Regions from separate parts of the Homo sapiens genome. Here region 2 is linked to region 1. The links come from fine-mapping of genetic effects on gene expression. Tissue or cell type: whole blood. Region 1 holds a variant in brackets; the other region holds the start of a gene. All regions are shown on one strand. Distances are from middle to middle.

What was found. PIP is the estimated chance that this variant, and not a neighbour inherited with it, causes the effect.
Region 2: DNAAF11 starts here. The variant in region 1 is fine-mapped to the expression of DNAAF11 in whole blood (TOPMed, PIP above 0.99).

The regions. Positions count from the first base shown.
Region 1 is chr8:132,705,260-132,716,119 of GRCh38, reverse strand. TMEM71 (transmembrane protein 71) reads left to right here. Exons shown (of 10, transcript NM_001382403.1): 8 at 1,905-1,966; 9 at 2,068-2,125; 10 at 5,138-6,179. The coding sequence ends at 5,153. Among named protein-coding and RNA genes, the nearest start is that of DNAAF11, 35 kb to the right of the region's middle. The variant T/C (reference allele first, on the strand shown) is at 5,200.
Region 2 is chr8:132,670,361-132,681,220 of GRCh38, reverse strand. DNAAF11 (dynein axonemal assembly factor 11) reads left to right here and starts at 5,676. Exons shown (of 12, transcript NM_012472.6): 1 at 5,676-5,737. The coding sequence starts at 5,728. LOC105375767 (a long non-coding RNA gene) reads right to left here and starts at 5,591. Exons shown (of 2, transcript XR_928665.4): 1 at 5,416-5,591; 2 at 5,163-5,329.

The sequences.
Region 1 (10,860 bases):
AGCCATGGCTGAGCGGCTGCAGCTGCACCTGGGAGGGCGGGGCCCCCTCCAGTTCCGGGCTCCCTCCTGTTCTCGGCTCCCTCGGGCTCTGCGAAGCCCACAACCCTGGCCAGGCCTCCCCTGCTGCAGCTGGCGTCTTTGCAGCAGCCACTCCAGATGGGCTGCTGCTGCCATCGCTTATGGGACTTCAGTTTTTCCCACCATTTCTGTCTTCCCTTAATTTCTTGTTTTGTCAGAACAAATTATTTCTCTCACGGAATATTTTGCTTGTATATGATTAATACAGAAAACTATTCACCTCCTCTAAGAAAATATACTAACCCACAGCAATAACAAATGTGCTATTCTACAATTAGCTCATTCCTTTTTGTTGCTGAATCATATTCCATTGTATGGATGTACCACAGTTTGTTTATACATTCACCTATTGAAGGGTGTCTTGGTTGCTTCCAGTTTTTGACCACTTTGAATAAAGCTTCTACAAAGAATCATATGCAGATTTTTGTACAGACACAGAATTCACCTCAGTTGAATTAATACCAAGGGGTGCAACTGTTGGGTTATATGGTAAGTCTAAGTTTAAATTTGTAAGCAAGTGAAGCTGTTGGGTTATATGGTAAGTCTATGTTTAACTTTGTAAGCAAGGGCCAAACTATCTTCCAACTGTTTGCACACTTTTCATTCTTTTTTTTTTTTTTTTTTTTTTTTTTGAGACGGAGTCTTGCTCTGTCGCCCAGGCTGGAGTGCAGTGGCGTGACCTCGGCTCACTGCAAGCTCCGCCTCCCGGGTTCACGCCATTCTCCTGCCTCAGCCTTCCAAGTAGCTGGGACTACAGGCGCCCGCCACCACGCCCGGCTATTTTTTTTTTTGCATTTTTAGTGGAGACAGGGTTTCACCGTGTTAGCCAGGACGGTCTCAATCTCCTGACCTCGTGATCCGCCCGCCTCGGCCTCCCAAAGTGCTGGGATTACAGGCATGAGCACCGCGCCCTGCTGCACTCTTTTCATTCTTAACTGCAATGAATGAGAGTTTCTGTTGCTCTGCATCCTCCCAGCATTTTGTATTGCCAGTTGTTTGGGTTTTAGCCATTCTACTAGGTATGCAGTGATATCTCGCTGTTTTAATTTGCATTACTGTAATGAGGAATGATGTTGAACATCTGTTTTTATACTTATTGACATTTGTATATATTCTTTGGTGAAGTGTCTGTTCAGATCTTTTGCTCATTTTTTCAAGTGGGTTGCTTATTTTCTTATTATTGAATTTTGAGAGTTCTTTATATATTATGGATAGAAGTCCTTGATTAGATACATAATTTGCAAATATTTTCTCACAGACTGCGCCTTGTCTTTTCATTCTCTTAGCAGTGTCTTTCACAGTGCAGAAGTTTTACATTTTGATAAAGTCCAATTATTCCTTTCTCTTCTTTCATGGATTGTGCATTTGGTATTGCATTTTAAAACTCATTGCCAAATGCAAGGTCATATTGATATTCCCCCATGTTTTCTTCTAGAAGTTTTACAGTTTTACGATCTACATTTTTGGTCTATGACCCATTTTGAGTTAAATTTTGTGTAAGGTATGTTATACATGTGGAGGTTCATTTTTTTGCATGTAAATATCCAATTGTTTCAACACCATTGGTTGAAAAGACGGTATGTTCTCCTTTGAATGCTTCTGCGCCTCAATTAAAATCAGTTTACTCTATCTGCATAAGTCTACTTCTGGGCTGTCTACTCTCTTTCATTGATCTGTATGTCTGTCCATTTTCCAATACCACTGTCTTTATTACTGTAGTTTCATAGTAAACCTTGAAATCATAATTCTATAGTAAGTCTAAAAAAATCACACAGGTTGGAAATGCACAATTAGTATGCTAAATCAGAGCAATCTTGTTGTTTCAGATGGTTTATGGGAGAAATATTAGCCAGTGTCTTCACATGCTCATTGATGATAACTGTAGCTTGTAAGTAACTGTTTCCCAGATTACTGCAATGATGCCTGTATTTCATTCCAATTTTGGTCACTTTAAAATGATTTTAAAATATTTTCTCTGTTTCACTCAAGATGTGAAATCATTGTTTCTCAGCCTTGCCAGCTATTTCAAAACCACTGCCTGTGCTCGGTAAGTGTTGCCTGTGTCATCATTATTGTCTGGACCAAGGTGATCATAATTTGATATCTGAGAATGGTTTCTGCTGCATAGTAGATGGCAATGACAGGAAACATCCTGATCATTCGTCCTGAAGACTACTTTCTGTTACTGCTAAAATTTAATAGTATTATCATCCTGCCTCCTAAATTTTTACATCAAAATAATTGTTAAGCACAGGACTTAGAAAATAATTTGAAAGGCGATGTCATTTAAAATAATTTTTAAAGTGATTTTGTAGATTCATAGCACTACACTTTATAAATACCTCATCTGAAGAAACCTTTGTGTTAGACGTTCCCAAATAGCTGGCAAACTGCCCATGAAATGATCTCAGTTACAAACTGTGATTTCTGTGCCTTCTCTTATTCATTTAATGATCCCCTTGTGTGTTAACTGCCATGGTTCAGCATATTTCAAAGGGTTACTGGGGTCTGGTTGGGATGCCCATAGAATTTCAAACAGTCTGGATAGCACCATCCTATTGCACGATGGACTGTGTTAATTACCTTCACTTCAATATGGCTGCCAGAGGCAAACTCACATGGCTTGGAGACTGAGGTCTGTAATTCACCATGGCACTCTTACAAAATCTGCGCTAATTCTGAAATCACAATGGGGTTTAGTGAAAATTTATTTTGGTTAGGATTCTAGCCAATATTGACTTACTGACATTTTGAGTGATGCTTCCCATAATTTCTGGGTATTTCTGGTTTCTGGGGGTGCACATACAGCTAAGTTTTATTCAACCTGATATTTAGAAAATCGAATCTCTGGGTAGCTCAAGAAATCCTTATAATTTAGCCCTTGAAATTAATGACAAGGCTGGGTGTGGTGGCTCACACCTGTAATCTCAGCACTTTGGGAAGCTGAGGCAGGAGACTTCCTTGAGTCCAGGAGTTCTAGACCAGCCTGAGCAACATAGTGAGACCTACGAAAAATAGACAAAATTAGCTGGGTGTGCTGATGCGCACCTGCAGTTGCAGCTACTGGGGAGACTAAGATGGAGGAATTGCTTGAGCCTGGGAGGTGGAGGCTGCAGTGAGCTGTGATTGTGCCCATGCCACTGCACTTCAGCCTGGGCTACAGAGAGAGAATTTGTCTTAAAAACAAAAAGAAAAAGAAAAAAGAAAAAAGAAAAAGGAGTTAATGACATTTGTTTAAAACAATTATTGATTTCTAAAGTGGCACCACCTAAGTTACCAAATCTTTATTAAGAATTTACAATATGTTCTATACGGTATGGGGTACCAAGTTTAGCTCAGTTGCTGTTAATGAAGTGTCTACCATGGGTTAGACACAGTCACTAGGTACCAGGGTGTGAATGCCCCAGCATGTGGCTGGCTTTGAGATTTTATCATCTCATTAGAGTAAAGGACTTGTAAGGGGCAAGGTGAAGTTGCCTTTTAATATGGTAAGTGCAAATATCAGGTTAGTACAGGAGCCAGGGGGAGCACAAGGAGGTCAGTTTCCCAGACTAAGAGGAGTGGGGAGTATGTTCAGGGAGGGCCTCCTGGAAGAGCCAATATCCGATCTGCAGGGGTTATATCACCTGCTGTTTTCTCAGAACTTCCCATTGTTCTGAGCTCATTGTTTGTTCTCTCCCAAAAGAAATTACATCAGGACAATATTTCTATCCTGAACAAACACTTTTATCTTCTGACTCATTTATGGAAGGAGATCCTTTCTTTGATTATTTGTGTACATACTTTGACTTGTTCTTCTCTTGTTCCCAACTCCATTTTTTCCTGTTTCCTGCCCACCAGCCTCATATACACACACATTTGCATTTAAGACCTGTGAAAACAAGGACTATTGACTTCATTTTTGTATCTACAACCAAAGCCTTGAAAATAGTATGTACTCTGTACATATTCATTAAATTTAATGTATTTACTGCATCATTTCTTGAAGTACTTCCTTGAAAGCCAAGAGCTCTGCGTGTATATTAAAGATTTTGCAACCCTCTCCTTCTTATATAAACATACCGAGAAACTAATAAACCAAAGATATGGTTATTAATATCGAGAATCAAGAATGACTCATAAGTCTCCTCTAACAATCAATGATGAGAATCTAAGGAACTGAATTCAGTTCAACAAATATTAATGCAGCACCCTCCCCCCAACACACACACCCATCCTGCACTGTGCAAGTTAGATTAGATTAGGTGCCTCTTTAGCACCTCACACGGCTCACATCATATCCCTTTTCATAACATAATGAAATTCTTAGTCAACTGCTTTCCTGATTAAATTTAAAGCCTGTGAAGATAGGGACTATCTGTCTTGTCCACCACTGGCCTGAGTGTCCCTTGCAAATGAAGGTCAGCACAGGTATCTCATGTTAGTAATGATGTGTTAGCATCAGCGGTACACGTTTTGCACACTTATGATTTCATAGTAACAAAATGGGTCACATCTGTTCTCTCTTAAATGAAGGAATGTATGTTCGTATACTTAATGAATGAGTGAATAAACTTTAGGGAATAAAAATATGGGGAAAATCCACCTGTTACCCTACAGGCTGTTCTACGGGGCAGGAGAGAGCAATTTTCTGGAAGGTGTATTCTTTTGAGCCATTTTCTTTACCAAGTTTTTAATCTTCTTGAGGATCATGATTACCTTTCACTTAAAGTGCAATTAAAATACTGATATAATACAGAAAAATGCCATAAGGGCAGGTGGGAAGAGGAAACCATAGGAAATATTAGTTAACTAAGTACCACGCTGGGCTGAGGGGTCAAAACCTCTATAGTCTTTCAGACAAAAAGGAGAGCACTAAGAACTGCTGGGATAAAAGCAAAAACGAAAAGTACCCTTAGTTGAGGCTGCACTCTTCCTAGTTGTGATAATTCAGGCCCGTTGTGGGTATGGGTGTGGGTGTGTGCTTATATATGCGCAAATGGGTATGCAGTGATTAGATACTGCATTTCCTGTGCATGGGGATGAATTATGCATTTCTTTTCTTATTTCTCCAATCTAGGTTTGTCAAAATTTGACAACCATTTAGGAATGCCTTCGATGAATGTCCTCCATCTGAATATC[T/C]GGAAATTGTCCAACTTGCAGTCTACTTGGAATCAAGTGTTTTATTGGAAGGGAGTAAGCGAGTAATGGAGAAAAAGCCATTTTAGTTTGACTATGTGATTTTAAAATGATCTCAGTTTTTCCATCAAAATTATAATATGCTCATGAAAATAATATTAATTTGCCTTCCCTTTGCAAACACCGGCAGTTGAAAGGAAAAGGACGGGGAATGTGATGGAAAAGAGACCGCCTGGAATAAATGTCCCCCTATGATTCTTTAAGGCAGTGGTTCTCGAGCTTGAATTTTCATTAGGAAATTCTGTGAGGAGCTTGTAACCAGATTTCTGGGTCTGCCACATGCACCTATCTCTTGCTGAATTGCTTTAATAGAATAATGAGAGCAAGTTTGTCTAACTAATACCAACCTGACAACTTGAATAACAATAAATGCAATTTGTACATAAAATATAATGCTGCAAAAGTTTGTCATTCACCTCAGTGGAGTGACTTGATATTAGGTGGTAACCGTAGATGATGGTTAATATGAAAATGGACAGGAAAGAAGCATTTTCTGAAAGTTATATTCTTTTGAACCACGTTCTAAACCAAGTTTTTAATCTTCTTGGGGCTCGTAATTACCTTTCACTTTAATGTCACTTAAAGATATAACACAGAAAAATGCCTTGAGGGCAAAATATAGGCAAAACACCAATGCGCTTTCAAATGCATGAAAATGGTGCAGTTGTACCCTTGAGCCTTGACTCAAGGGCTGTAGATGTTCCCTTTCCACCCCCCACACTTGGTGCGTGTTCACAAAGCAAATATGGCCTGTAATTCAAATTTGTTCTATGTGATACTCTCTGAGTAAAAACTCATACATGCAGAAAATTGTCTTTGCTCGAAATGATAATGCCAAAATATAACTTTATATATAATTTGCATTTAGTACATTTTTGGTTAAAAAATAAACTAATAAATAAGTGAAGTCATCAGCAAATTTATATTTGTGTGTGTGTATATATATATGTATATATATATTTTTTTGAGAAATCATGGCAGAACATCATTCATTGAAGACTGTATTATTTCCCTATTGCTGCCTTAACAAATTACCCTAAACCAAGTGGCTTACGGCAACACAAAGTTATTGTTTTACAGTTCTGGAGCTCAGAAGTCTAAAATAAAGGTCAGCAGAGTTATTTTCCCTCTGGAGGCTTTAGGGAAAAATCTATTTCCTTGCCTTTTTTAGCTTCCAGTGGCTGTCTGTATTCCTTGGCTTGTGGCCCCCTCCTCCACCTCCAAAGCACACCACTCTGATTTCTTACTTCCATCATTACATCACCTTCTCCTCTTCTGCAGTAAAATCTCCCTCTACCTCCCTCTTTAAAGGACACTTGAGACTACATTTAGGATCCACTCTGATAATCCAAGATAAAATCTTTGACTTAATGACACCTTCAAGGCCCCTATTTTCATATAAGGTAACATTGATGGGTTCCTATGATTAGAACCTGGCTATTTTGGGGGACCATTAGTAAGCTTACCACAGTTGTATTTGAAATAGCCTCGTGTAATAATTTAGTAGGTCTGGGATATGTCCCATGCCTTTGCCATTTTTACAAGTAGGTTAAGTGATCACAAAGTGATCCACAATCCACGTGCATGAATGCTTTGAAGTGGGATTTAAAATGAATTTAATGGAGAACTAAATGCATATGGAGCCTTTCATTTAATACACTATTAGGAGAACTTCCATTGAGAATTTCTACATTTCCTTTGTCTATGTGTAACACACATTTTTCTACAGAGTCATTTGATTTAAATGATAATGTTTTTCAAAGTAAGATACTGAAATAGTACTAACTGTTTACGTGCATATAATGCTTCATTGTTGACAAGGACATTTTCTCCCCGGCTGTATAAGCTTACTATGGCTACAGTAACAAGTTACCACAGATTTGGTGGCTTAAAACAATGCAAATTTATTATCTTACAGTTTTGGGGGTCAGTCCAAAATGAGCCTTACAAGGGTAAAACCTAGAGACTGCTTGCATTCCCTGGCCCCTGGCCCCCTCCTCCATCTTCAAACCACTTCACTCTAGCCTCTGCTTCTGTGGTCACATCTCCTTTTCTGACTTTAGACATCTTGCCTCCTTCTTTAAATAATTTTTGTAATTACATGGGGCCCACCCAGATAATCCAGAATAATCTTTCCATTTTAAAATCCTTAACTTCATCCCATTTACAAAGTCCTTTTGCCACATAAGGTAATCTAGTCATAGGTTCCAGAGTTCTGGAATGCAGATATCTTCCAGGACCCAATGGCTAAGGCCTTCCCCAGTGAAAGCTTCAGATGAGAGGCCGGTGCAGGACAACACCTTCTTTACAACCTTGCAGAGGACGCAGTTAAAGACCTCTGCAGAAACTGAGATTAATGTGTGTTCTAAGCTGCTAAGCTTGTGCTAATGTCATTACATGGTGATAGATAATGAACACAACATCCACTGATTCTCCTCCAAGTGTATAAAGTGTGTTGCTGTGCAAAATGACTTTAGGACATGTCCCCTAGCAGTGGGCTCCAGCCAGATGGTTGCTCTTGAGCCCCACTACTTGGAGTGGAGAGTATAACCTTAATATCCTGCAGATCCATCTGTGACAGAGGTGCACAGGACCTGACTAGTGATGTGTGTGCTGCCAGGAAGACTTGTACATCACTGGATGTCAGCTCTCTGCCAATGGCCAGCCTCAATCCTCTTCAGGTCCTATTTGTTATTGTAGTCTAGCAGCGGGCAATATTGTTATAAAGAACCACGTCTGCTGTACACAAAAGATTCTCAGTGATCTGGAATGCACTCCTTGGGAATTTGTAACTTTGCTGAATTTAATAGTCATCATCATAATATGATTTCATGTATATATTTGATTTTATAGTTTCATTTATTAATACATTCAGTAAATATATATTTAGTCCAACCATGTGCCAAGAGCCAGTCTAGCCCCTGGGAGTATGACGGTGAAGAATACAGACGAGGTTCCTGTACTTATTAAATGTCATGTTTATGTAGGCACCATTCATTCTGTGAAATAGGCAGAACAGCTGTTTTTAAAAACTTGTATTGTTCAAATACGAGAAAAACAGAAAATAGTGTAAAAATTATTATAAGGCAAATGCCTTGTTTTAGTCTGTTTTGTGTTGCTGTACCAGAATATCACAGACTGTGTACTTTATTTTTAAAAAGAAACATATTTCTCACAGTTCTGGCAGCTGTGAAACCCAGTATCAAGGTGCTGGCATCTGGCAAGAGCCTTCTTGCTGCATCATCTCATGGCTGAAGGTGAGAAGATGAGAGAAGGCCAAAGGGAGGAAAGGGGCCAAACTCATCTGTCTATCAGGAACCTACTCCCGAGATAACTAATCTATTCTCACAATAATAACATTAATTCATTCATGAGGGCTGAGCCCTCATGACCTAATCCCCTCTTTAAGGTCCCATGTCTCAACACTGTTGCACTGGGGATTAAGTTTCCAACATATGAAATTTTCAGGTCACATTCAAACCATAGCATGCCCTTTTAAGAACCGAAGAATAAAAAGAGACGAAATCTTGCTAGCTGTATCAGGAGCCCTCCAGCTGCCCCTTCCAACATCCTCACCTTCAGAATAACCACTATGGCTGAGTTTATGATAATCACCTCTGCATCTTGCTTTATAGTTTTTATTACCAATTACGTTTCTAAATACTATAGTATAGCTCTGCCTGGTTTTATTTGTTTGTTTAATATGCCTATTGGGTCTCTTTGAATGCATAAGTTCTTCCTCCCTGACCTTTGAAATTTGTTTCTTTGAAAACTGCATCATTTGTCTTGTAGACTTTACTCCATTGGAATTTTGCTGATCGCATGTCTGTGGTAAAGTTTAATGTCTTCCTTAGTCTTCTGTATTTCTTGCCAACTGAAAGTTGATTACAGAGGCTTAATCGTTTTTTGTTTTGAATTTTGTGGGGAACAATTACTTCCTAGGTGGTGTCATATTCTTTGTCAAGAGTGACATTATGTCATTTTGTGTTGTCAGCAGCCATTTCTGATCAGTGGTTAGATATCTAATTAATTAGAGATTGAAAAGGATGATATTCCAGTTTGATCACATCTTCTTTATTGGGAATATATCTGTGCAAGGAAACATCTACCGTCTGATTGCCCAGTGGTTCAGATTTTATAGGAAAGGAGAGATGAATGCTTGAGTCTTTTCCTGTATTTGCTAATTTTCAAAACAAAAAGTTTATTTCTTAATATCTTTTAAAGGTGGCCAGGATGCTATGTATAATCAGCATTTATATATATGAAGGAACCATGTTTAATATATAAAATTTCCCAAAAGGCACACCCTCCAACTTCCAAACTCTATATACTTTGTACCTCATCAAGATGCTAAAAAGATTGAGAAAGTAAATTAAAGTATGGGAGATATATAGATAATAACTCAACTTTAAAAATTTAACCACCATTTATTTTTTGAGAGCCTACTACCTGTAAGAACTGAGTCAGGTACAGATGTTTTAAAATATGGTGCCTGCCCTCAACAAACTTGCTCTCTAATAGGGGAAACAGGGCATTGCATGAAACAAGAAGGGTAAGACCATGGGGCCAATACTGATGGAAGATGCTAAAGGACTGTAGAGGATTTCCACTCACCCACTGTCATAGCTCAGACTGCTATAAGAAAATACTGTAGATTCAGTGTCTTACCCAACAAACATGTATTTTTTTTCAGAATTCTAAAGGCTGCAAAGTTCAAGATTGAGGTGCCAGCTGATTTGGTGTCTGGTGAGGGCTCACTTCCTGGTTTGCAGATGGCTGTCTTCTTGTTTCAGCTTCACATGTTGGAAAGAAAGATCCAGTGTCTCCTCCTCTTTTTATAAGAGAACAAACCCCATTCATGGAGGACCCATTATCATAACCAGATCATTTTCCAAAGTCCCCACCTCCAAATACCATAACATTGGGGATTAGAGCTTCAACATATGAATCTTATAGGGACAAAAACATTCAGTACATAATACTCAGTTACCAAAAATGTATGCCTAATAAATTTTAGAGATTCAATACTTCTGAATTGAACATCACTGTTTTGACTTACAGGTCTTTTAACGCCTTTTACTAGAGATATTATTTTGCTGCTCTAAAAAGTATAAATGGTTTGTAGTTGTTCTAGCTCATTCATCCATGAGTTCAATCAATCCAATCAATCATTATTATAATTGATCACCTGATAATTACCTGGCACTTCTTAGGAACCAAGGATTTTTTAAGTGAAGGAAATACAATTCTACTCTCAAGGAGCAGATGTCATAGCAGACTGGGAACCAGCTAAGCATGTAATTACAAGTGTCAAATATACTCTAGAGCCAAAAAATGCATTTCTTTGAAAACATTTACAAGGTCAGATTCTCTGGTAATTTAGATGAATTCTTCCTTTGGGTTAATGGGAATTATGGTATTGTCTTCTCTTTTTGAGAGCAGAGAGGGATGAGACATGAAGGGAGAACCAAAGTATCAGAAACAGGTAGTGAGGAGAAGAAAATAAAAGAAATGATTACAGTGGCAATAAGTTAACAGTAATAGGAAATACGATCACTGGGGAACTTTTATTCTGTGCCTGATCCTGCCCCTGACAAGTTCACG
Region 2 (10,860 bases), 35 kb after region 1:
CTAACCAACATGGAGAAACCCCATATCTACTAAAAATACAAAATTAGCCAGGCGTGGTCGTGCATGCCTTTAATCCCAGCTACTTGGGAGGCTGAGGCAGGAGAATCACTTGAACCCAGAAAGTGGAGGTTCCAGTGAGCCGAGATTGCACCATTATACTCCAGCCTGGGCAACAAGAGTGAAATTCTGTCTCAAAAAAAAAAAAAAAAAAAAAAAAGGAATAGTTATTGGGTGCAAAACTAATTGCGGTTTTTGCCATTACTTTTAAATGGCAAAAACTGCAATTACTTTTGCACCAACCTAATAGCTCATACTGAGTACTTTCTACATGTCAAATACTCTTCTAAGGGTTTTACATGTAATGTGCCAATTAGTCCTCAAGGTGCCTGGTATATGGAAGGTACTCAATAAATACATGCTGATGGAAATAAAGAAGGAAGGAGGGAAGAAATGAACCAAGGAGAGAAGGAAAGAAGGGAGGGTAAAAAAGAAAGGAAGGAAGGGAAGAGAGGAGGGGAAAGGGGTAAGGAAAAAGGGATAAGGGAACAGGACAATGAAAGGAAGGAACTGAGACTTGTAGTCGTGCTGGTAAACTTGGCAGCTTGGTTTACCTTTCATAAAGTTGCAATGTAGAAACTTTTCTGAAGAAAAATAAATGCAAAGTATGGTGGAATTCTAGTCACAATATTGGTTACATATCATAAAAAAATAAGAAATTATATAAGTTAAAATGAAAATAAAAAGAACTAAATTGCTTTCTAGGCAAATGTCCCTAGAATTTATCCAGCATAAAAGAAGTAGGAGGACTATTTTGCTGTTACTGGAATAAAAAAAAAGCACACACACTCTCTTTAAGATTTATTTTTTCTACTTGTATACACAAAATGTCACACCTGTTTTTTCAGGAAGCATAGCTCATCTTGCTATAGTTCCAGCAGCCAAAGAAATAAGTCTATTTGGAACAATGATTTGCATAAACAGACACACACCACAACTCTTTAAACTCTTTCATCCACTTTGAGTGAAATGAACTTGACTTTACTTAGAGCTGTCACATCGTGATTTCCCAGTTGTCCTCCCTGTCAGTGGACTGTGACAATCACAGCACATTGTACACATGTCCTTCATACCCCCTGGGTCCTCTGTTTCTAAGAAACACAGTGACTGTGATGTTGGGTTGAGGAAGGACACATCATAACCAGCCAGCCTGGCCTATGACAAACTGCAAAGAAGATATTGCTGATTTCCCTGCTTTATCATCCAAAGCTTTTCTCTGCTTGTATTATTCTGTTTTCATGCTGCTGATAAAGACATACCTGAGACTGGGCAATGTCCAAAAGAAAGAGGTTTAACTGGACTTACAGCTCCACGTGGCTGTGGAGGCCTCACAATCATGGCAGAAGGCAAGGAAGAGCAAGTCATGTCTTACGTGGATGTCAGCAGGCAAAGAGAAAAGCTTGTGCGGAGAAACTCCCACTTTTAAAACCATCTGGTCTTGTGAGATCCATTTACTATCACGAGAACAGAAAGGGAAAGACCCACCCCCTGGTTTAATTACCTCCCACCAGGTCCCTCCCACAACACGTGGGAATTATGGGCATTACAAGATGAGAATTGGGTGGGAACACAGAGCCAAACACTGCTCCACCAGAGTGTCAGGACAATCTGTCAAGACCTTGCCCCTGGAACCAGATCTTATCCTAGATTTTGGTGAAAAGGTCCCAAGAAAAAGAACAGTCCAATAACCAGAGAATGAGGTACACTTCCTGGTAAGCCTGCTAGATTCCTTTACAACAGGGACACCTCTGTGGTTGGTGATCCTACTGAAGTGACAAGATGTAGGCCTTACACCAAAGACAGCCAAGCTCTTGAAGAAATTGGCTCACTGACTCCTCCATTCAATCATTCAACAAATATTTACTGAGCACCCAATAAGTGTCAGGAATTTTGCGAGAGCTAGGATTCAGGGATGGAAACAAACAAACAACAATAACAAAATTCCCTCTCTGCCCTCGAGTAGCTCTCAGTCTAAAAAAATGATGCAGTATAGAATTAAGGTTTAGGCACAAAATTCTGATTCACTATGCTTTAGTAAAATAATATCACTGGGCTTCAGTTTCCTAATCTGTAATATATTCATGACAATATGACCTGCTTGAGGGTTACTGTGAGAATTGAGTTAGTAATTTCAAAGTACATGGGCAGTGTTGAGCGCACAGTGCTTAAAAGTATCTTAGAGATTTTTCTCCAGTAGAATGACAGCCCAATTGTTTATTCACTTATGAATGAATGAACAGAATACTTGAGTCCCACAGATATAAAATTTCACAGGAAAAATCCAAGGCACATGTCCTAGTCTGTTGTTACTTCTATAGTGAAATATCTAAGACTAAGTCATTTCTCAAGAATAAAAATTTATTTTTATTCTTATAAATTCTTATAAATATTAATAAATTATAAATTTATTTTTATATAAAAATTTATTTTTATTCTTGATAAAAGTCCAATATTGGAAGTTCAATATAAGGGCACTAGGCACCAGTCACGGTAGCTCACACCTGTAATCTCAGCACTTTAAGATGCCCAGGCGGGAGGATCTCTTGAGGCCAGGAGTTCAAGACCAGCCTGGGCAACACAGTGAGACCTTATCTCTATAAAAAAATCTAAAAAAATATTAGCCAGGCATGATGGTGCACACACATAGTCCCAAGGTTGAAGACTGAAACCTGGGAAACACTGGGAAGTGCTCTGGAGAACAAAGTTGAGGTTCCAGTTTTAAAGAAAAAAGGACTAATCAGGAAACGGGTGACTACGAAAGTTGCTTGTTAGGAATTCTCACTGGTTTACAGAAATAACATTGATTAGTTATTGGTTGTACATTGTTAAACTATAGGGAATGAGTTATGATGTCCAGTGTACAGCATTGTTAGGTTTATTTATAGCCATTGGTGGCAACACGCAGTCTAGGGTCCATACGGCAGGCAGCTTTGAAACGATTACTTAGCTTAAGGGGATGGGGGACTGGAACTTGACTGCTGTCACATTTCAGTGCCTCTCTGGGCCTGATAATTTAAAGGGTGCTCCCATTCCTCAGATAGAAAGTTTATTTTCTTTCTCATCACTCTTAAACTCTCAATCTTACTCTTGAACTCTCTAGTTGTCAAAGGGGCTGCTGTGGTTTGAATGTTTTTGTCCCCTCCAAAATTCATGTTGAAATTTAATCCCCAATGTAGCAGTATTAAGAGGCATAGCCTTAAGGAGGTGATTGAGTCACAGGGGCTCCACCCTCATGAATAGGATTAGATGCCCTTATAAAAGGGATTGCCAAATGGAGTTCACCCCTTTTCACCTTTTCTATCCCTTCTGTCATGTGAGGACAGAGGGCTCCTTTCCTCAGAAGAATGCAGCAATGAGGCACCATCTTGGAAGTGGAGACCAGGCTCTCATCAGGCACCCAACGCACCAGCACCCCGATTTTTTTAGACACAGAGTCTCACTATGTCGCCCAGGATGGAGTGCAGTGATCATGGCTCACTGCAGCCTCGAACTCCTGGGCTCAAGCAGTACTCCCACCTCAGCCTCCCAAGTAGCTGGGACTATATATATTAATTTTACCTCAGTTTCTTTTTTTAAGTCAACAGTGAGTAGGTCTGAGAGTGAGGATAGAAGCTTAGAGCCAACATGTCAAATACCTGGGTTGCAATTGCTCTTGAGAACTTTCTGCGGTTCTGGAGTGGCTCCCTTTGTCTCCTGATCCAGAGGCTGAGATCCTTTATTATTTTTTTTTAATTTTTATTAAGAGACATCGTTTCTTTGTGTCACCTAGGCTAGAGAGCAATGGCACAATCCTAGTTCACTGCAAGCTGAGATCCTTTATAGTAGGCCTGACCTCATGCTTTTGTCAGCTTAGAAACTAATCTTTCTGCCCAGTAGTAGCTTCCTTCTAGAAGCTAGATCCTTTTTAGCCTTGATGAACCCCTTGTTGTTAAAATGCACAATTCAAGCACAGGCGAATTTGCTAAACTTGCCTGCTGCTAATAGCATTTCATCTCCTTTGTGAGTAATCAGACATCAGTGCTCAGTGTCACGTGTCAGTGTCAGCGTGTCAGTGGCACGACCACAGATGTTTACCCATATTGTCATCATCATGTGGAAATAGAGAAGTTTCAGCTTTCAAAGGTGAAGTCATCTGTCTGATGCCACACAGTAATAAATCTGTGTATTTAATCTATGTTTCCAATGCCAGAGCTAATACTGTTCACCTCACACTAACCTGCTTTCAGAAAAATAATAGTGGATGTCAGGTAAGTTTATAGTTTGAGTGCCTTTTGGGAGGCCTCCTTGGAAATCCAAATATTCAGGGAAATAGTGCCTGAAATCCCACTCTTCCAGTTCAGTTCCTTTGGCCTGGCATTTAAGGCCCCCATTACCCCCGATCTAATCTCTCATTCTTACTGTTCGAAGATCCCTTCTATCTAGCTCTCTTTATTGCCAAACTGATGTTTCTGCTTCCCCCCATCACCTCACTCTGTTAGACTTTCCTGCCTCTCTGTCCAAGTTCATGACCTTGTCTCTACCTGGCAAACTCTAATAATTGCCAGCTGTAAATGCTTAACAGCTATTCGCTAGAAAAATTAATTTCTTTGCACTCAGCATTGCTCTAGGAATCTTCTTTTAAAATGCAAACATAATACACACATCAAGATAAGAAGCACGCACTCCATACTGTTTAAAACGACTGGGATGGGAGAAGGTTTTACCTTTTACATATTGCCCCCCTCCTTTTTCTGCAAATGGAGTAAAGAATAATAATTACTTTCATAATAATGGTACCTTTTAAAGATTCTTGGGAAGCTAACGCATTAAAGTGCTAACACTAAGATCTGAGGGTGAATGAGCTTGCTGATGTGCTTCCTAGTTTAGAATGGGAGAAGGCGCGTTGCACACTTTTGGAGAAGGGTCTGGGGAAACGTGAGGGGAGTGTGGGGCTGTAGGAGATATACTTCCTACATTTTACAATTAAGAGAGTGGAGAATAGGGAAATTGATGGAGGGGGTAATGGGTGGCGTTTCTGGAAAGCTTGTTAGCCGGAAACGAGTGTTGGAGAGTGACTTTAAAAAGCTGGAATATGACAACGACAACGAATCTTTATAGTGAGCCTGTTGTTTTCATAGTGTCTTTCATTCACTCAAATTATCTAATTAAAGCTTCACAGTGATCCTCTTAGGTTATTTCTCATCTTACAGATGTGCAAACTGAGGAGAAGGAAGTGTAAGGTCACGCCGCTGGTAGAGTTGGGGGCCAAATCCAGATCTGTTGGCTCTGGAAGCTGTAAATCAAACACAAAAAGGAAAAAGTCAAAGGCGGTCTGGAAGGCAAGCCTGGAAGGCACAGAAAAGAGAAGCGTCCTCATACTTTGTTCACTCTAAACCATTGATTCAGGGAGAGGGAAGCAGTCTGTGGCAAGTCGGAAGTGCGACGAGGACGAAGACTGGGTTTGGGTTGGGGAACCCCTGTCTGCTGAGCCCCTTCACTGCGGTCTCCTCTGCTTGCTCCGCGGAGCTCAGGAAACGCGGCTTGTTTTGGTCCCGCGCGGCCGCCGTAGAGTCCCCGTTGCCATGGCTCCTGAATTCCGACGGGGACGCGCTGAGGAGCAGGGGTGAAGGGTGAAAAGCGTCATTCGAGGTCCGGGTCCGGCTTGCGGGGTCAGCGAACTGGAGAGGCGCCATGGGCTGGAGTAAGCCCCCCTCCACCTTCCGTCCTCGATCGTTCCCCTTGTGGAAGTAGTCCCGGGTCTCGTGGGATCCTCGCCGCCCGCTCCCGCCCTGCGCTGTCGGTTCCCCCGCGCCTGGGCGGACCCTAACCCCACCCGGCCCTCCGCACCGCAGCCCCGGCTGCACCAGGTCCTCTGCAGACTGGCCGGACAGCCTGGCCTTTTCCAGCTCAGGTTCCTAATCTGTAAAATGGGCGGGGCCGTGGGAAGGGGAGGAAGAGGCAGAAAGGCACTGGACTCCAGGAAAGGGGTCGGGGAACGTGCAGGGGTTTTGGCGCCAGACACACCACGTTCCGGCCAAGTGGCTCCTTACTGGCTGTGAACGTGGGCCAGTCACTGTCTCCAAGCCGCAATCTTCGGACTCATTCCGGAAGGCAGTGTAGCCTAATGGTGGAGGGTTCCGACTCTGGAGCCAGGGTTGAAGTCCTCCCTCTTCCTGTGACTTTGAGCGAGTGACTTCACCCCTTGGGCCTCAGCTTCTTCATCTCCAAAATAATGGCAATCATACTACTGTTTTAGACACAGTAAGTGTTATAAACGTGTTTTTGTTTGTTTGTTTGAGACAAGAGTTTTGCTCTGTCGCCCAGGCTGGAGTGCAGCGGCGCGATCTCGGCCCACTGCAGCCTCCGCCTCCCGGGTTCAAGCAATTCTCCTGCCTCAGCCACCTGAGTAGCTGGGATTACAGCGTGCACCACCACGCCAGGCTAATTTTTGTATTCTTAGTAGAGACGGGGTTTTGCCATGTTGGCCAGGCTGGTCTCGAACTCCTGACCTCAGGTGATCCGCCCGCCTCGGCCTCTCAAAGTGCTGCGATTACAGGCGTGAGCCACTGCGCCCGGTAGTAAACGTGTTTCTTTAAGAATATACTAACAAACTGCAAGGTGATGCGGGTAAGTTATTTATATTGTATGAACCATTTTGATATCGACAACGTTTTTGAGCTCCCCATATGGCAGTTTTGTACAGCTCTACCTAATTGATCACTTATCATTGTAAAAATGTCATAATTAACTTTTTTTAAATCAAGAGACTGCTCCAGATGATGGGCTTTCTGCCCTGGAAGACCTGACAGCCTGCAAGTGGGAGAGGTGGGGGTCGGGGGGGAGTGATTTGTAAATGTTGAAACTCCTTTCCTAAATCAGCTACTGATATTTCTTCCTCTCTTCTCAGGGCTGTCTCCCCATCCCCTGGTCTCACCCTAGTTGGTTTTTTTCTTCTTCTCCTTCTCCTCCTCCTCCTTCTCCTCCTCCTTCTCCTCCTCCTCCTTCTCCTCCTCCTCCTTCTCCTTCTCCTCCTCCTCTTCCTCCTCCTTCTCCTCCTCCTCCTCCTCCTCCTGCTCCTCCTCCTCCTGCTCCTCCTCCTCCTGCTCCTCCTCCTCCTGCTCCTCCTCCTCCTGCTCCTTCTGCTCCTGCTCCTCCTGCTCCTTCTCCTCCTTCTCCTTCTCCTTCTTCTTCGCTTTTTTATGTCGGGAATTTTCCTTTGCCCTCTTTCTCTGAGTCGTGCCCACTTTGATTTGTTAAATCATTAACTTGTCAGACTTGCATCGGAGTGTCTACCTTGAATCAGGTATTGAATGCAGGATACAGTGAGGAAGGAGGCAGATGTGGGCCTACCCTCCTAGGGAGGGAGAAGACAAACAGAAGTATAGTGGTTACAGCCAGGAGAGAGAGGGGTGCCTGTGCCCTGAGGGTGTGGGTAGGGGACCTAACCCCAAGGTGGGTGGAGGCTTCTCTGAGGAAGCAGTGCTGTCTGGAAAGGAAACAGGAAAGCTCAGTGAATTGCCCAGAGGTGAGAAAGAGCAGGGCTTCTTGGTGGCTAATTGTCACTGACAGGAACTGGTGTGAGACAGAAAGAAGGAGTGGAGAGCAAAGAGATAAGGAAGGCCTGACAGGTAGGCAGGGATCCGCTCATACAGGTTTTGTACTTAGGATTTAGAAATTTATCAAAAGAGCCACAGAGAAACCAAAAGGTTTTGTTCATGGGCATAGCTTGGCCCTATAGGAGTTCGAGTGGGAGATAGTAGGCTGAACTGAGGTCGTGGCAACAGGACAGATGACAAGCACTCCTCCAATGAGTAGCTCTGATGTGCCAGGCTTGGTTAACATGCTTTACCTGCATTCTCTTGTTTGATCTTCCCAGCAGCCTTTTAAGGCAGGGAAGGATTACTGACATCTCTATTTCTTTGGTGAGGCACAGAGAGTAAATCACACAGTAACTATCAGGGCTGGGAACAGAACCCACGAAGATTTCCTCTGGGTCCTGCATTACACCGCACTGCCGCCCACAGGACTGAGGCGAGTGGACAGATTTGAAAGATGTGGGTGGAGAAAGTGGTCCTCTTTTGCTGTGCCACAAACCCTTTTTACATGTTCTCTCTCCCCCGTGCTTCCCAATAAATGGCCTTCTGCCTCTTGCTAACATCTCCTGACTGCTCCTGTGTGCCCTTTTTTCCGCTGCCTTTCCTGTATTTTCCAAAAAAAGACGCAGGGATGTCATTAGTACAGGTTTTAGAGAGACCGTGCTCGAGAGTTCATCTAGTGTACCTGTTCATTTTAGAGATGAGGAGGGGAACATTGATTCAGCCAGTGTCACATCCCGTCAGTCAGGAGAGACGTCGAACCTAGGATACGAGCTTCCCGGCTTTCGCGGCTCTTTCCACAATTCTCAACCTCCTTCAACTAAAGGAGAAATTTGGGCTCCTGAGAAAGGATGATAATAATAGCTCACTCACAGTTATTGAGCTGCTTATTGCCTTCTAGTCAGTGTTCTGAAAGTTTCTCTGTGTGTGTACTCATTGAATTCTCACAAAAATCTTTTGAGGTAGACACTAGTATCATCACCTCCATTTTGCAGATGAGGAATCTGGAGCACAAAGAGGTTAAGCAGCGTGCCCAGTGCCACACAGTAAGTGGTATATCTGGGATGGTAAGCAGAGCCCGCACTCTTGTGTATGTTTGCTATATTGTCTCTTAGGAGTAAGAGACAGTTTGGTGAGAAAAGGAGAGGTCATGGTGCAAATTCTCATGTAAAGTTGAAGAGACCACTATTTTTGATGTTTGTGTCTGCTCAGGAGGACCAATATTGAGCCTGGGGATGGTGGCAAGAGGAAAATGAATTAGTTCCTCTCTGTGCATTTAATCTGGTGTGTGTTGTGATTTAGAGAAGATCTAGTGTCTTTATTCTTAAATTTTATACTATTGAATGCATTTTGTATTACTGGGACACATTTGTCATCTATAGATCTTCTTTGGTGAAATGTCTTCAAATATTTTGCCCATTTTATACATTGATTTGTTTTCTTATCCTTGAGTTTTAAGAGTCTTCTATATATTCTGGATATAGGTCATCAGATACATGATTTGCAAGTATTTTCTCCCCACCTATGGCTTATATTTTCCTTCTCTTAATTATTTTGAAAGAGAAGATTTAAATTTTGAAGTTTAATTTATTATTTTATAGATCTTGCTTTTGATGTCATATCCAAGAAATCTTTGCTAAGTTTACATAGATTTTTCTCTTTTTTTTCCTAGAAATTTTATAATTTTTGGTTTTATGCTATTCCATCATTCATTTGACTCAATTTTTGTATATGATGTGAGATGTAGATTACATTGTTGTTGTGTGTGTTTTTTTTTTTAATATGGAAATCCAGTAGTACCAGCCCCACTTGTTGAGGACTATGCTCTCTCCATTGAATTGAACCTTTGGATAAACCAGTGGCTTGTATATGTGTGTTCTCGACTTTCTTTTCTGATTCATTGATTTATTTGTCTTCCTCTGTGCCAATTTCACACTGTCTTGATTACTGGAGCTTTGTAATAAGTAGTCTTGAAATCCAGTAGTGTTTTTCCTCTAAATTTTTTAATCTTTTAAAGTTGTATTCAGATCCTTTACATTTCTATATGAATTTCAGTAGTATCTTGTCAATTTGTACAAAAATAAGTCTGCTGGGATTTTGACCTGAATTGTGTTAAATCTGTAGCTCGATTTGGGGAGAATGAGTATCTTAACAATATTGAATCTTCTGACCCAAAAACAAGGGATATATCTCCATTTATTTAGATATTACAAAATGTCTACAATATTTTTGAAGTTTTCAATGGACAGACTTTGCACATATTTTTCTGATTTATCTCTAAGTACTTCATATTTTTGATGCCATTGTAAGTGTTGAGTATATAGAAGTATACTTGATTTTTTCATATAGATCTTATATTCTGCAATCTTTTCAAACTTTCTTATTCAATTAGCTTTTTATATGAATTCCATTTGATATTCTCTGTAGACAGTCATATCATCTGCAAATAGAAATAATTCTACTTCTCTACCACCTGGATGCCTTGTTTTTCCTTGCCTATTGCTAGAACCTTCAGTATAATGTTGAAGTGGTGAGAACAGATTTCCTGGCCTTTTTTTCTGATTCTTACGGGAAGAGTCTTTCTCTGCTCGATATAATGTTGATTATAGGTGTTTTGTGGATGCTCCTTGTCAAGTTGAGTTCCTTTTTATTTCTGGTTTTCCGAGTTGTTGTCTTTTTAAAATTGGGAATGGATGGTGGATTTTGTCAACTGCTGTTTTGTCTCTACTGACATTATCACTTTGTTAGTTTATTAATATTGTATGTTACTTGGATTTCTGAGCATTATATCAACCTCGTATACATTGGATAACTCCCCCCTTGGTTATAATGTATAATTTTTTTATTATGTTGTTGGATTTGATTTGCAAAATTTTTTTGCTTAGGATTTTTACATATGTGTTCATGAGGTACATGGATCTGTAGTTTTCTTTTCTTGTAATGCATTTGATTGGTTGTAATTCTGACCTTATAGAATATAATGGGAAGTATTATTTCCTCTTCAATTTTCTACAAGAGTTTGTGTATATGGGGTATTATTTTCCCTTAAGTTTTTGGTAGAATTAATCAAAGGAGACATCTGTGCCATAGTTTTATTTGTGGAAAGAAAGGTTTTTAACTACATATCCAGTAGATATAGGGCTGTTCAGCTCATCTATATATTCTTGAGTGAGCTTTTGTAATTTGTGTCTTTTAAGGGATTCACCCGTTTAATTGATGTTCTTGAATT